Regions from separate parts of the Homo sapiens genome. Here region 1 is linked to region 2. A link means that fine-mapping ties the variant in region 2 to the expression of a gene that starts in the linked region. Tissue or cell type: whole blood. Region 2 holds a variant in brackets; the other region holds the start of a gene. All regions are shown on one strand. Distances are from middle to middle.

Region 1 (8,184 bases), 43 kb before region 2:
CATGTTACATGAAAGAGCAAACTATCATATTCTACACGTGAGTACAAGAAAATTTAACATTTCATATGGAAAAAAGCCAAAATAAACCAATATATTCAAGTTGGTTCAGTGTGGGTAATGGAACTCTGGGTGATTTTCATTGTTTTGCTTTGTTATCCTTTGGTTTGCACCAAAATTGCTTCAATACTAACAACAAAAACAACAAAAACAAATTACGTTCTCATAAACTTTGTTTTGTAACAAAGGAAAATTCTGCCCAGTGTTCCAAACACCTCAAAGTTCCAAGTCTAGGTCTAAACCAGAGTCGTTAAGTATTCTCTGAAAAGCGATCTACTCTTAATTGACATCTGGCGACTCTACATGGACCAATGGCTTCCTCCGCAGGATGTTATGATCTTTATTTTGTTTGTAGCCTACGGAAGAATGAGCCTATTAAGAGCTTATTGAGATTGATGATTGCACAGTGTAGCTTGAAAGGTCCAAATTTAATCCGTTTCAACGGGAGGAACAAAATTCAAAACTGTTTTCAAAGTATTTCGAGAATGTGTCCCTTATCTGGAAGTAATACTTAAAACGAAGCAAACAAAGACGGTAAGAGAAAGTCACAAATGCAAGCTCGCGCCCGAAGCCAGCCTCGGGCAGGTACACTTTGGTGTGGTGTGGCGGCGGCAGGGCGCCAAGCGCCGTGGTTTTTACGGTCTCGTCAGCAAGCAGGGCCGACCTCCGCTTTATCGGACAGGACCAACGCAGGATCCGGGGCGCGGCGGCGACAGGGCCCCGAGGCAGATGCCCGAGCTAGAACTCTGGCGCCTACTTACTCCTCGGCCGGCCCGGCTGCTCCGAAAAACGACCTCACAGGAATGGCTGCAAGAGCGCCGCCGCCGGCAGGGGCTGAGGAGAACGAGCCTGGGGCTCCGGGCCCAGAGATGAGACGCTCTGGCTGGGAAGCAAGGAGCATCGGCACCGACGGATAGAGGCCGGTGGCCCTCAGGTTGAGCAGGCGGCTTCGGGGCGGGGAGAGAAGGGACCAAGGCCCACCGCAGGCCTCAGATCCTCCCACGCCTCCCCGCTGCTACCCAACGATGACGCAAGTACGCATGCGCCTCCCCAGCTGCCGCTGGGAAGAGCGCGCTCCCCAGGGCCCCGCCCCCTCCAAGGATTTCCGGGGAGGCGGGTTCCACTGCTGACTTACCGGTTTTACTCCTCTGCTCAAAAGGCGCCTGCCCGAGGCCGCTTTCCGTTGCAAAGGTTCCTGAATTTGGGGAGGAAGAGCAGCAAGACTGAAATATTGGGCATACGTTTGTTGCTTCATAAACGTTTGCTGAATGAATAAACTGATACGCCGATGTTTGCTTTAATTGTAACTCCCCCTGCCGCAGTTCCCAGTCTTTGAAAATTACAACAGCAACATAGTTTTGGGCGTGTCCTTGACAAATGTGTTTCATTCCCCAGGTAGTACCGTGCAAGTGAACTTGGTGAGAATTTTTTCAAGGAAATTTTTGCCAGCATCGATTTTTGAAACTTAGTTTTTACCATGCTCTTTAAAAAAATAAACACTTGGTTTGTTCAAATACCAACTTTAGTCACACAATCTGGCTTCAGCACCTATTGTTCGGGCCCCATATATCGTTCTCCACACTTAGGATGCTTCATCTCCACATAAAGCATAACTGCAAAATACACAGGGCAGAAGGAGACCTGGGAGATAATACTATGGTTGCAGAAATTAAGACCAGCCTGAGCTCTCGACAACAAGAAAGAGACACAGCGAAAACAAGGCATTTATTTATAATAGGCTCTTGCAAGCAAGGAAAAATAAGGCATTTTCTGATTCGAACGTAGTGCTCTATTACCCCTACTCAACAAACATTTGAATGCCAAAGAGCTGTGAGGGTGGATGCTTAACAAGCAGATGCTAAGCGAGGTTATATTTTTGTAGGAAGCAGCCTGATAAGAAAAGAGCAGATTTTCGAGTCAGATTTTAGTTCAAAAATCAGCTTTGTACTTGGGAACTCAATCATAAGCAAATTACCTTACCTCTTAGTGTCGGTTTGTTCATGTGTAAAACGTGTTAATAGTACCTGACCCAATCTCTTGCCTTCAAGTATATCACTCTATTTCCAAGATGAGATCTCTCACAGTTCTACTACGTACACCGTTAATTTTAACATTATTTAAAAATAGTTTACTAAGTTTATTTCATTTATTTATTTGAGACGGCGTTTTTGCTTTTGTTGCCCAGGCTGGAGTGCAATGGCGCGATCTCGGCCTCCCGGGTTCAAGCGATTCTCTTGCCTCAGCCTCCCGAGTAGCTGAGACTACAGGCGCCACCACGCCGGCTAATTTTTTGTATTTTTAGCAGAGACGGAGTTTCGCTATGTTGGCCAGGCTGGACTCGAACTCTTGAGTTCAGGCAATCCGCCCGCCTCGGCCTCCCAAAGTGCTAGAGGATTGCAGGCGTGAGCCACCGCGCCCGGCCCTAACATTTCAAAACGTTTGGAATTCAGGCAACAAGAGACATTTTGTAAGAACATTTAAAACCCTTCTCCCCTGGAAATCAAGAGATATGTATGGAGTCTGGAGATTCCGAACTCAATTTTCTAGGACAAAGGCAAACTCAGATGATTACAAGAATGAAAGTGATCGTCACGCTGCTTCCAGGTTCCAAAGTATGGATAATTTTTTTTTTTTTTTTGAGATGGAATCTTGCTCTGTCGCCCAGGCTGGAGTGCAGTGGCGTGATCTCAGTGCAAACTCCGCCTCTCGGGTTCAAGCGATTCTCCTGCCTCAGCCTCCGGAGTAGCTGGGATTATAGGCGAGCGCCACCACGCCCAGCTAATTTTTTGTATTTTTAATAGAGACGGGGTTTCACCATGTTGGCCAGGCTGGTCTCCAAATCCTGGCCTCAGGTGATCCGCCCGCCTCGGCCTCCCAAGGTGCTGGGATTACAGGGGTGAGCCACAGCGCCAGGCGAGAAATATTTTTTTAAAGAGGAATTAAAGAACCTAATTGGTTTTGAGAGTTCTCCAAGAGCCAGTAAATGTTTTCCCCACAATATTCCATTCTACCCCATTACTGTAGAGTCGTTATAGAAGAAAACAAAATCACATAACGCAACTTGGGCCAAAAAACATTACACGTTCCAATTACGGAAATAACGAACTGAATCGTGTCACCCTTGAACTATGTAAAAGTTGAAAAGATGTTCAGTGTTAAATGTAGTAACAGTTCCACATTAAAAGATATTTACGTTCGAGTTTACAGTATTTAAAAATGCCTTTCTACACACTTTCCCGGGAAGTTAATGCCACTTCAGTTGAGCTGTCTAGCGAGATGGTTAAGCATTTACTGTGTCTCTAACACCGACCAGGGGAAAAATCATCAATTCGTTTGCCCGAGTTTAAGAGAATTTTCACCTAACTTCTAATCTCCACAGCCAATCAGTTCTTGGAACCGCACACCCGATGCCGACATCCCTCTCTTGTTGGCTCCCCTCGTTAGCGGGATTCAATAACTAAACGTCCATTTCTAGCATTGACTGAAGAGCTCAAGCTTGACACTCGACCTCAATCCTTAGCAGCACCGCCCACCATGCTCCCGGAAGCTGCGACACTACGCCCTGCGCTAGTCCCGGGACGTGGGGTTTTATATCCGGATTCTTAGCGCGGACTCAGAACCCAGCTCTTCCCTACACGGTCGGCACATGCGCGGCAGCTCTTTTCCTTCTTCCTCCACTTCCCCTACCCTCCACCGTCCGGGAGCCGCCGCCACCGCCGCCGAGGAGTCAGGAAGTTCAAGATGGCCGCCGCGGAGACCCAGTCGCTACGGGAGCAGCCAGAGTAAGTAGTCTCTGTGAGTGGGCCAGAAGCTGGAGCCCGGGGACTGCCGAGTGGGAGCTGCACGGGGTGGCGGGAAAGTTCGGGCCTAACGGCGAGAGTCAAACTTTGCTTTTTCCGGCGCGATTCGTTGTGGGGTGGGAGGCATGGGGAGCAGGCGGCCTTCGAGCTTCCTTCTCCCAGAGGCCGTGGCTGCTGGGGTGAAGGCGGCCGCGGCCTGCCGCGCGTCGTTGCCCCGGGAGGCGTAGGCGCGAGCGGCCTCTACAGGTCCGGTGCGCGTGGCGGCTGCCGCGGCAGTGAGGTCGCGCTTTCCTATGCCTCTTTTGGGGACCCATCTGAGCTCCCTGGCCGCAGCTCTTAGCGGCATCTGTGTTGGGGACACGAGGGTCAGTGGCAGCAGGCGGGCCAAGCCCTAAGTCTTTTCTTCCTCATGCGGTACCCCCAGTCGTCCTTTTACTGGTGTCAGTTTAGGACCTGAAAGCAGAGAGCGGAGGTGCTGGGGTCACACTCTCTGGCCATCCCAGAGCTAGTCTGTGGCTAGCGGGATACTTGATCTCGTCACCTTGTACTCTTTAGTCCAGCAGTCACCCAGTATTGTTTTGTTTTGTTTTGAGTGCCTACCGGCAGCTTTTTTACCAACTTGCAAACTTGAGGCAAAGTAAGATAGAGTCTTTGGTTTTGAGGCCTGGCATTTTTTTTTTTTTTTTTTTTTTGCCTGAGTTTATAACCCTTCTTTAGGAGGACGAGTGGAAGGAGTAGTGGGAATTGCTAGCTACTGCCAAACCACTTTATGTCTATAATTAAGCTAACATTAAGAATCCATGCGGCCAAATGAAAAATGAAAAAAAAAAAAATACGAGTGTATGCTGCAAAGGTTAACCATTGGTTAACTTAAAGCAGTATTTTGCTGTTCATGTCTATGTTAGGAAAACTCAAACAAGAACCTTAACAGAGAGAATGGATTTTACGGCAATGTTCCTATAGCGACCGTTTTTTTTTTTTGTTTTGTTTTTTGTTTTTTTTTGCATCTGCACTGTCTGATCTGTTTCCAGCCATCTTAGAAAGAGGTATAGTCTCCCAGCAACTTGTGACTGAGCGATAGAAGAAATCTTTGCCACCAGACAACCTGACACTTAATTGCTGTGCATCCAGTTTTGGGCTCCTCAATCATCTGCATTACTCAGCTAGGCAGAGAAACGGAATTTTTAATTAAGGGCTTTTCAAAACTGCTGTATTATTTTTACAATTTGACTTAGCAGAGAACAAATGGATTCTGAAGTTTTAAATTAGCTTTAACCTCTTACTGTTTCTCACCAAGTTCATTGTGTGGCACAATTACAGTGTTTATGCCAGTACCGTGCAGATCTCATGCTATGTGGTTACATTTTCTACTAATCTGAAAAGTTCTGTAATATTATGTCCATTTATTTGATTTTAGGGATGTTTCAGATTCATTTCCAGGAGTGGGTCAGCCATAGTTTATTCACATACTGTATTCAAATAATATTAGACTTAATAATTTCAAAAATACATATTTAGGCCTCTGCTGTATGAGTAACAGAGATAATCTTTAATTTCCCTTCCCTTCCCCACAGAGCACTTGGTGTAAATGGAATATTTGGTCTGTATATGTCTCACTTTCAGTAGTTTGAAAGTATTTAACAAAGAAGATAACCATTTGGTATGAAAGCAAACTATGCCTGGTGCTCATAGTGAGTCCCTGAATATAGTGTCTACAACAGTTCTTTAGAGAACACTGAGTAGTTTACAGTTATATAGAATCTATTCAAAACAGAAAATTTAGAAAGAATAAATATAAGAAGCAGCTTTTAAGCTCCCTGAAGGCTTTAATTCTTTTAACAACCCTATGGAGGTAGATACGTTTATTTTCCTTATTTTAGAGATGATGAAACTGAAACACAGAGAAATTAAGTAACTTGCTCAAGGTCACACTCAGTGGCACACCCATTTAAACTCAGGCAGTCTGGTTCTAAAGCCCTGCTGCTAACTATTGTACTGTCTGGCCTCCCACTATACAATGTGGCTTCTTTTTAAATTGCTTGTCAAGTATGAAATTATTTTTGTTTTTTTCCACTGTCCCAGAAAGATACATTTTTTGATGTGACATGTCTAATTTATTGAGAACTAATTTCTCAAACCTGATTTGGCAAAGCAGAGACCAGAGGGAATGTTTTAAGACTAGTTGGTCTTTTGGACCCATTCTGATTTTTATAGCTACATTAATTCTTTTTGTTCATTTTATTTATTTTTGAAACACGAGCTCTTGTCACCCAGACTGGAGTACAGTAACATTATCATGGCTCATTGTAGCCTCAGCCTCAAGTGATCCTCCTACTCCAGCCTCCGGAGTAGCTGGGACCACAGGCATATGACACCATGCCCAGCTAATTTTTTTTTTTTTGAGACGGAGTTTCACTTTCTCTCCAGGCTAGATTGCAGTGGTGCGATCTTGGCTCACTGAAACCTTGGACTCCCTGGTTCAAGCAGTTCTCCTGCCTCAGCCTCCCGAGTAGCTGGGATTACAGGCACGTACCACCACGCCCAGCTAATTTTTGTATTTTTAGTAGAGATGGGGTTTCACCTTGTTGGCCAGGATGGTCCCGATCTCCTGACCTCGTGATCCGCCCACCTCAGACTCCCAAAGTTCTGGGATTACAGGCGTGAGCTACCGTGCCGAGCCATGCCTAGCTAATTTTTAAGTATTTTTGTAGAGGCAGAGTCTTCCCATGTTGCCCAGGCTGTTCTTGAACTACTGGGCTCAAGTGCTGCAGGTACTAGGGAGTCTGAGGCAGGAGGATCATTTGAGCCTAGGAGTTTGAATCTAGCCCAGGCAACATAGTGAGACCCAGTTTCTTAAAAGATATATACATTTTAACTTGTCAGAGAAATAGGCTTAATTACTTTCCTGGTAAATAGCAGTGGCGTTCACTTTGCTCGCCACTAAAAAAAAATTTAAAGAATTGTCTAGCTTAAAAACGGCTTTATTCATACACAAATTTAAATCAGTCAGTTCTCTGTGTCTCTGTATATTTTGAATGCCTACCAAATAAATTCACTAAGACTATTGTTTGGAAAAAAATGTGAAAGAAGAAGTTAAAATAACACTGGTGGTTGGTGATTGGTGACTATTTTATTTTTTTGAGACCGAGTCTCTGTTGCCCAGGCTGGAGTGCAGTAGCGCAATCTTGGCTCACTGCAACCTCTGCGTCCCAGGTTCAAGTGATTCTCCTGTCTCTGTCTCCCGAGTAGCTGGGATTACAGGCACGCACCACCATGCCGTGCTAATTTTTGTATTTTTAGTAGAGACGGGATTTCACCATATTGGCCAGGCTGGTCTCAAACTCCTGACCTCAGGTGATCCGCCAGTCTCAGCCTCCCAAAAGTGTTGGGATTACAGTCATAAGCCACTGCACCTGACCGTGACTATGTTATTTTAAAGGCGTTCCACGATTTTCATTCATTGTGCTGGGTGCCTCAAGACATGGGTTTTTTAAAAGGTAAAACTTAACAAAACAAATAAATACTGTTAAGCAACCCCATGTTGTCTGCACTTCTCATTCACCTTTGCTTCCAAATAATGTGATCTGAAGAATGTTATCCAATATTCAATAGGTTCTCAATAAATATTTTGTGATAAACCTGTTGTGACCAGGTTGGTATACACATCCACTTGGCTAAATGTGGGATATTAAATTGTAAAATGTTAATGTTAAAGCGTAAATTTATATAAATGAAATATATATGGCCTATATTTATTGTCAGTATAAACTATCCAAGAGGGCCGTTAGGTTTCTTAACAAGAAACCTTTTTCTTGAGCTTTAGAAGAAAGTCGTTGATGATAAAGCTAATTTAGCTGTTTTAGCACAGGCCCATTGTATGTAATACATTATGCCATTGACTCAATGTTTCAAGTTTTCCAGATTGACCTGGTCAGACTTTAGTTGTGATTTGTGACATTTGCATTGAGAGATGAGTTGAGACTGGTAAAGATCCATTGTATGCCTAGCCCCTGTATAAGAAAATGCTATAATTAAGGTTAACCTGATTGTACCGAGCTGGTAGCATTTTTAGCAGGAACCTACTCATTATTTCTTGAGATAATACTCATTAATTTACAATGGAAACTAGTCACTCATGGGAATGACCCTTCTACAGTGATACTGGTCATCATGATGTATTTCTAATTCCCAGAAGCTCTAGGAGCTAGATTTTCTGTTGATAGAAGTTGATTCCTCTATGGGTAGACTCTTAACAATTTTTAATGAAACTCCTAAGATTTTTGTAAATTGTTAGCATTAGAAAAGATAAGGTTCAAAAAACTGATTT
Region 2 (8,184 bases):
AACTAAGGACCTGTTGGCTGACTTGATTGGGTGCCAGAGACTTCCTGAAGACCAACGTAAGAAAGTACACCAGCTAAAGGACTTGTTGGACCAGATTCTGATGTTGGACCCAGCTAAACGAATTAGCATCAACCAGGCCCTACAGCACGCCTTCATCCAGGAAAAAATTTAAACAAGATGAAGAAACTCCAAGGGTTTGAGTAAATACAAAGACTGAAGAAATTTCACAGCAGTTTATTAATGTATATAAACTTATAAATATTTCTCCAGCAAATTTGAGGAAGCATGATATATTTGAATTAACACCAAGGGTGATATTTCTTTTAGAGATGTTAGTTAATCTGTTTTGTGTCTTACGTGAAATTTCACTGTAGACTGTTTTAAATTGCCAAGACTGCACAAAATTACAGTGCTAATGTATATGGTTGCAGTTCACATAAAGACAAAAGCATCTGTTATGAAATGAGTAGTAATATTGGGTGGTTGATTTGTTCTTAGCAGACTTGGCTTCATTTTGGTCTTGAGATAAAATGGCCAGCATAAATGCTGTTTATATTCACGTTTTCCTAGGTGTGTGTGTGCAGGCCACAGCAGCATGCCCTTGGTGTAGTCAGTGCCGAAAGGGGTCTGTTCCTTCTTGAGCCTGCCTGCAGGGATGGTCTCCTTTTAAAGCAGGTTGTGTGCAGCATTCAGTACACTGAAGGTAAGCTAAACCATCAACATCTCTGGTGTTTTAAGATGTTATTTTATTGGAACAACTGACAAATGAGGGATGTTAGCTTTGTGGCAGAATTCCCTGCATGTGTGATAACTGATCTTGTTTTATTTTTTGGCATTGCAACTGTGGCATAGTTACAATTTCTGTTTGTTCATCACATTTAAAATTGGAAGAGAACGCGCTTGATGGATAGAGCGCCTTCAGTGTACTGTTTCTTATTAACTTTACTTTTTTTAAATCAACTTGCTATAGACTTTATATACATTTTGTTAAATATAGTTCCTAGTGACATAGAAACGATGCGTAGTTTTCATTTACTAATTACAAATGTTGAGGCCTAATTCTGAAAGTCCTCATATTTAAAGGCTAGACAACGTAATGAAATTTTTAACTATTTGTATGTCATTTTGAAAGTGTACTGCTTTATGGTAAAAGTGTTTTTCATTTGTTCATTGTTTTCATTATTTGTGATCATGTTGTCTTTCAATACAGGCATAAACCTTCCACTCTTGAACAAAGCAGCTGCTTTTTAAAAGCGGTAATTGCTTCTTTACCTTTTATTTCTTTTGTAAATGAAGCTTTTCTTTAAGAATGTGACTTTAAAGTGTTGTCTATTGCATAAAACAGTTGACACTCACTTATTGTAAAGTGAAGATTGTTCTACTGCATGTGAAGTGGACCATGCAGATTTCTGTATGTTCTCAGTATGCATCACTAGATAATAAAGTCTTTTGTGAACAAGGCATTTGTAGCCATTTTTAAAAGTTTTTGTCTTCAGTGCTGGTAAGTCAGGTAAACCATAAATAGTTAAAAGCAACCTTTTGTTTTTTTCCTGAAAGTTTTTAATTGAAAGTATTATTAGTTAAAGATGTAAACCTAGCCAAAATTACCAGTTTATTAATAATTAGGATCCTAATTATTTCAAAAAATCCTACAAATATTGTCAGCTTTCAGTGTAGTGAGATTATTCCTGTAGGTTATGGGGTATAATTCAGGATTTAACTAATGTTTCTGCTATTTTCTCACTTTTCCTTTTGATGGTGCGGAAAGAGAAAAAGGAAAACGGGGCACAGGCCATTCGACGCCTTCTCCAAGGGGTCTGATTTGCTGAGACACCAGCTTCACCTTCTTAACAAGGTTATTTCTGACAGCATGTGTAGATAAACATTTAGCAACAATTTAAGACAAAATCGTTTAAATCAGCTTGGTTTTGCAACACAAAGGAATTTGTATTATTAACATGGTAGAAGAGAATTTTTCAGAAATATATGTAATCTTTGCTGTTTGGGGGGTAAAATTAATGCTTGTCTCCCTGAGGAATATGGAAAATAATCAGATTTTAGGGGTTTAAATAATATTTTTAAATTGTAAATGGGATTTTTTTATTCACCCAGGCACCTAATTACAACAAGCATGCACATTTTGGTGCATTCAAGAATGGAAAATCAGAATAGCAGCATTGATTCTTCTGGTGGGTTTTGCTCCATTTAAAGACATGAAATGAACTACAGCCAGGAAGGTGATAGATGATATAATAAGCCACCTCTGAACCTACACCCCGTCTCTTCACGGTTTAGACTTACTAAAATAAATACAAGGTGATTTTCATCTTCAGGTAGAGTGAAGCCTTTTAATTAAGGCGTCACAGGTGCAGCTATTCTACCTTAATGAAATGGGTAGTGATTTTCCCACCATTATTTATTTCGGTGATAATATGCTGCATATTCAAGTCTCTTGTAGTTATTTTCACCCAAAGTAGTTGACAATTTGATGCTTCTGGTGATGTTTATGGCTTCATTTTATGTAATTTTTTAAGTAAGTTCCACTAGAAACAGTTCATCTTATACCTTCAAAACTGTTACCTGTTCTTTAAAAAACAAAGTTGCTTGTTACTTGTTCTTTGTGTTTTAGGTGCAGCTCAGTGGAAGATGATGACAACCAGAAGACATGAGCTAAGGTTTCTGTCCTATAAAAGATTTATTAAAAAACAATCCTTCATTTATTTTTTGTCTAATTTTTTAGTTTTCAGCATTATGATTTGGGTTTTATTGGTGTTTGGTATTTAGAATTAGTGCTGTTGTGGAGTGCGTCTGTAAAGTGCTTGTTTTATCATACTTCCTGCCTCTCCCCTCCCCCAGTTTCTCCTCCCCTAAAATAAAAATAGTGGTCAACTTTAGTAATATAAAAGGCTGCTGGATGCTGAGATTCCACATAACACATGGTTGTCAAAATTGGATGTTAAGGATTCTTAGAAAAACAGCAACCACCAGAATAGCATATATCTGAAAGTAGTCTTCAGCTTTAGGCAGATGCAAAAGAATACAAACTGGAATATTAAGAATACTGTTCAACTCCTTTAGTATCTGTTCCCCAACTTACCCTGTAGAAACCTCGTTATTAACCAGTGTTCCAGTCTTAAAGTAGACAAAATATTCAGAGCCATTTTTTTTAAGGGAAATGAAAAAGATACTCTGGGTTTTTTATACTCCCCAATTTAGCATATCTAGACTACCTATTTGAAAGGAACCCTATCAACTGTCTTATGTACGTTACATGATTTTCCTACACTCTGTAATTTTGCTGAGGTGCAATTTGGAACTCTGCAAGACCTACTAGATTGAATTTATTTAGTGAATGCTCCTGAATAAATGTGCATTCCTCTTTTAGAGTAGCTGTATGCTTTTCAAATGCTATCTGCCGTGAATTTTTTGCTTTTATTATACTTTATGGCAAAAGTGATATCAAGTGATTGTCAGACTTGAGGGCTCATAGAAGTGTTAGGTACGGCTCTCAAAGATGTTACAGTTTTTTCTAGGGTTGGGAGAATAGTTGAGATCTGGAAAGCATAGACATTTTTTACACTCTGGATAGACTTTATTCTTGAAGATCATCAGAAATGAGGTTGGAATTTCGAGGTTTTGAGCAGGGGGAGCATCTTATATTCACCCTTAAATCGTTATTAATACATCCTGTTTTCTTCATTCCCTGATAGCTATCTCATTTCACTCTACTGTCTCAAAATTTTGTTTTAAAATAATAGAAATGTTTTGCCATTATTAAGTACCACTTTATTCCTAACAAAAATAAGTACTCAGGACTTTTTTTTCAAAATGAAATATTTATGTACTGTTTTATGGTATGTGGTAGAGTAAGTAAAATGTAATGTTCTCAGTTTTGTTCCATATTTGCATTCCTCTTATGCTTTACCTGTATTTTATCATTTGTAAGCAGAACTCTAGCTATATGGGGTAGAAATAAAATCTCTGAGATGAAACAAAGGAATCAACATGATAAAATTTAGGCGAAGTAGTTAAGAAATGGCCCTTTTGAATGTTGAAGATAGGAAAGAAAGCCATATATTCAAATATGTAATTTTCCTCATTTAGTTATAATGACATCTTTACCAATTGGGCTTCATAAATGTGTTTCTTTCTTAATAGTATCCTAGTTCCAGCATATATTCAACATGAATTTTATCATTCTCCTCCTAATGGAATGTCTTCCTTATAGAAATGTTCACGACAAATTCATTTGTGTTTTTTACATGTC[A/G]ATAATGTATGCTAAATTAAAATGTTTTCCAGTTATTCTGATAGATGTCATTATGGCATCCTTAATTTTTCTTCTCCTTCTGTATATAGGGTAAGGGACTGTTCTGAAGAACCTTTCCATTTAGTGATCAAGATATGGAAGCTGATTTCTGAAAATGCTCAGTGTGTACTCTAATTATTTATGGTACCATTTGAATTGTAACTTGCATTTTAGCAGTGCATGTTTCTAATTGACTTACTGGGAAACTGAATAAAATATGCCTCTTATTATCATATTGTCTCCTGGTTTTTTTCTTTGGTTGAGTTCAGATTTTCCTCACAAACATCAAAACATTTTCAAAGCATTAGGTGCACAACACCAAAGAGTGTATTATATTCGTGTTCCTGTTACATACATTTCTGCTTTGGTTTTCCTAGTAAAGGAAACAGATAAGTAATGAGCCAACTCCTGTTTTTATAATGATAAAAATAAATTGGTTCATTGCTCACATGATAGCTTGACAAATCTTGGGCTCTTATCCTCAGTATACCCACTCTTTATTTTCTTCTTTTAAGGAACTGTTTTTGGCTTTTCAAAACAGTGAGTAAAATAGATTCACAGTGTAGTTTGTGAATCTTAGTGCATGCAAAGCAGATAAGGCAGGCAGAATGGCCTTGTAGAATGCACCCACCCACCCCATTGGAGCTAACCACCGCAGAGTGGCAGGTAGAAGCTAGTATGCTTGATTCTGGGCTGAGAAATGGTCAAATGGCACTGGCTCTGGATAGTCTTCATGTAAAGGCCCCAGTTATAATTTTGTTAGACTGCATAACTATCTAAAGTGGCTATGAGGTTATTGTATCTGGTACATTTTAGGGAAAATAGTATGCAGGATGTATTGGTTAAGGACCTTTCACACATACTTTTTTTCTTTCTTTTTTTCTTTTTTTTGAGACGGACTCGCCGTCTATCGCCAGGCTGGAGTGCAGTGGCACGATCACAGCTCGCCTCCGCCTCCTGACCTCAGGTGATCCACACGCCTGAGCCTCCCAAAGTGCTGGGATTACAGGCATGAGCCACCACACCCGGCCACACATACTTTCTCTAATTAGAAAGATTCAACCTCATGAAGATCCAGTGAGCTGAGGACCATCAATGACTGGAGAGCTAAACATGGGTATTTATCAGCAAACTAGGTTTTCCCGAACAGAATTTATATGTGTGTTATAAACTGCCAAATGTTTTCTTATTTAAAGATAATGGTGGGCGTTGACTTCCACCAAGTATGAAAAATAGCCAAATATTTTGTATTCATGTCTCCAGTTTTGTCCACTACATATGTAGACAAGTGGGTCCCACTTCACCTGTTTGAACCAGGTCTTTTTCCCCTGTCAGTCTACAGGATAAATTTGAGATGATACATCTCTAATCCCTACAAAACTTGCCACTTCTGGTCTCAGTCCCATCTCCCATGCCCATTCCCACGCCTAGTCTTACTGAAAGGGTTTGTGTCTGTTGCACCGTACCATTTCCCTGTGCCTTGGCACATGCCCTGCAAGAAACAGGACATTGTTAGGAATTATTGTTCTGCACCTAACTAGTGCTAAGGAGGTCCATTCTCGAGATGGTTTGCCCTCCTGTGTCATTCTTACTTCCCTAATGTATTTTGTGAATACTTGTATATGCCAGGCACTTTTGCTGCTGGTCATTTAACCCGCACATGATTATATGAGATAAAGACAGTCTACCCACTTTACCCATCAGAAAAGTGAAGCAAGAGAGGTTAAGGAAACTGCTAAAGGTGTTAGGTGTTCAGTGGCAGGAGTCTGGGTTCGAATTTAGACAGCCTAGCGACAGAGCTAGTGCTTGTAACCACTATGTCATGCATGACAGTTGGTAGTCAAGTACTACCTGCCAGGATACAGTGGTGAGCAAACAGGCATGTCCTTTCTGAAGGTTTTACAAATAAAAATTACATCATAACCCTGGGGGTGAGGGAAAGAATCCAGGTAGCTAAGGAAAGTAGAAACGAGAATGGACACAGAGGGCTTGTCAAAAAGGTTCAGTACACAAGTTAGAAGGAATTGTAAGAATTAAAGATGGTTTGTGGGAAACAGGTCACTGCAAGTTGGAATTTAGTGAAAATGTAAGTCCACTTTGGCATATACTTTTATGAGAGGGATATTATACCACTTTGGATTAACGGGACTGATTGTATGGGATACAGGTAAAATTTCATTATGCTAAGACTAACCAATTACGTTTGTTTTCTATTGCTGTGCTATATGATTCTAGAAAATTCTTTGAAATTAAAAACTAAGCATGCTCTCTGACCCCTGCCTCTAAGAAAACTTTGAACCTTAAGCTACTAAAGCTGGAAAAGCTACAGTTGTTCTCTTCTGCATTTATTTGAATTATTCATTAATTCACTCATCCCTAACTCAAATATTCCAATATTCCATCTCATTTGCAGGGATGACACCCAAACATTTAGTGGCTGTCTTTGTGTGTGGGGTTACGGGGGGAACGGCTTTTTTTTTTTTTTTTTTTTTGAGATGGAGTTTTGCTCTGTTGCCCAGGCTATGGGCAATGTCGGCTCACTGCAACCTCCACCTCCCGGGTTCAAGCAGTTCTCTGTCTCAGCCTCCAGAGTAGCTGGGATTACAGGCACCCACCACCACGCCCAGCTAATTTTTGTATTTTTAGTAGAGACAGGGTTTCACTATCTTGGTCAGGCTGGTCTTGAACTCCTGACCTCGTGATCCACCCACCTCAGCTTCCCAAAGTGCTGGGATTACAGGTGTGAGCCACCACGCACAGCCACCTTACTTTTCATTTGGTACCTTTGGATAATGGTTGAAGTTTTAATTGTGTATTTTTTTAATTTTTAGAAAAATTAATTTGAATTCACCAACCATCCACTTAAAACCCAAACACAGTATATTCCAAAATATCTGAACCTCTAATTTATGTATGTTACATCAATCCTTTCCTTTACATCTTTCAAAGTGTGATCCAAGAACCACCTGCATTAAAATCACCTGGAATATTTGTTTATAATGTGTGTCCATGGGTCCCAATTCCAAAGATTGTGTTTCAGAGGGCCTGCAATAGAAGCTAGGACTCTATTTGTTTCCTTGATTCTTAGGGGCAGTAAAGTTTGTCAGTCACATAGTTTTCCTTTTTCGCTAGTTAATGAGTTATGTGTTGGCTGAATGAATTTCAACTAACCAGCCTTAAGACTTCCAGCAGTGCAGAGCCTTGGAAAAAACTCTAGTAACATGACATTTTGGCTGCTCTGTGGACAATGATCTTACTCAATTTTTCCTTCAACATTTAGAAAATACTGGATCTGAGTGGAAGAGGGTTATTTCAAGCCTAAACCTGTAGTTGGGCCCCAAAGAGAACTATCTTTCATGTAAATGACAAAGAAAGGCCAGGGACAGAAAATTTCTAAGGATTTGGGAGGAGCTAGGAGGATCTAGAGGATCTTGTACATTAACAGAACAACAACTTCTTTAGCTTTTAAGGGCCAAGTAAATGCCCAAAGGATAGGTCAAAATGATAGATCTGTGGAGATGAGGGCACAGGAAAAAAAAAATGATACCAGAGTGAGAAAGACTTTTTAAAAAATCAACTCTTATGACTATATGACAAGAACTACAGCTGCAATAAGTCAATTATACCATTTATTGATGGAATTATACTGGAAAACAATCACTGAAAAAAGAGTAGCCTTTTGAATAGAATAGTCTACCAAGTGAACCATTTACTTGAAACACAACATGCAAAAGATTGTGAAATATGTCAGTATAGAAGCCTGTGGGTTTATATATAGACATCTCAGCAGTGCTTTTCACAAGTTCTACTCCATATCACATCAAGCAACTGTTTGGTGATTTTGGGGGACTGTTAATAGTACCTGTGTCTTGGAATAA

What was found. PIP is the estimated chance that this variant, and not a neighbour inherited with it, causes the effect.
Region 1: PRP4K starts here. The variant in region 2 is fine-mapped to the expression of PRP4K in whole blood (TOPMed, PIP 0.92).

What each region holds. Positions count from the first base shown.
Region 1 is chr6:4,017,628-4,025,811 of GRCh38, forward strand. PRP4K (pre-mRNA processing factor kinase PRP4K) reads left to right here and starts at 3,673. Exons shown (of 15, transcript NM_003913.5): 1 at 3,673-3,839. The coding sequence starts at 3,799. It overlaps LOC124901245 (a long non-coding RNA gene), which reads right to left and starts at 3,540. Exons shown (of 2, transcript XR_007059415.1): 1 at 1,193-3,540. RefSeq lists enhancers at 925-974, 3,504-3,813, 4,856-4,915.
Region 2 is chr6:4,060,445-4,068,628 of GRCh38, forward strand. PRP4K (pre-mRNA processing factor kinase PRP4K) reads left to right here. Exons shown (of 15, transcript NM_003913.5): 15 at 1-4,539. The coding sequence ends at 172. It overlaps FAM217A (family with sequence similarity 217 member A), which reads right to left. Exons shown (of 7, transcript NM_173563.3): 7 at 7,923-8,184. Among named protein-coding and RNA genes, the nearest start is that of FAM217A, 15 kb to the right of the region's middle. The variant A/G (reference allele first, on the strand shown) is at 4,268.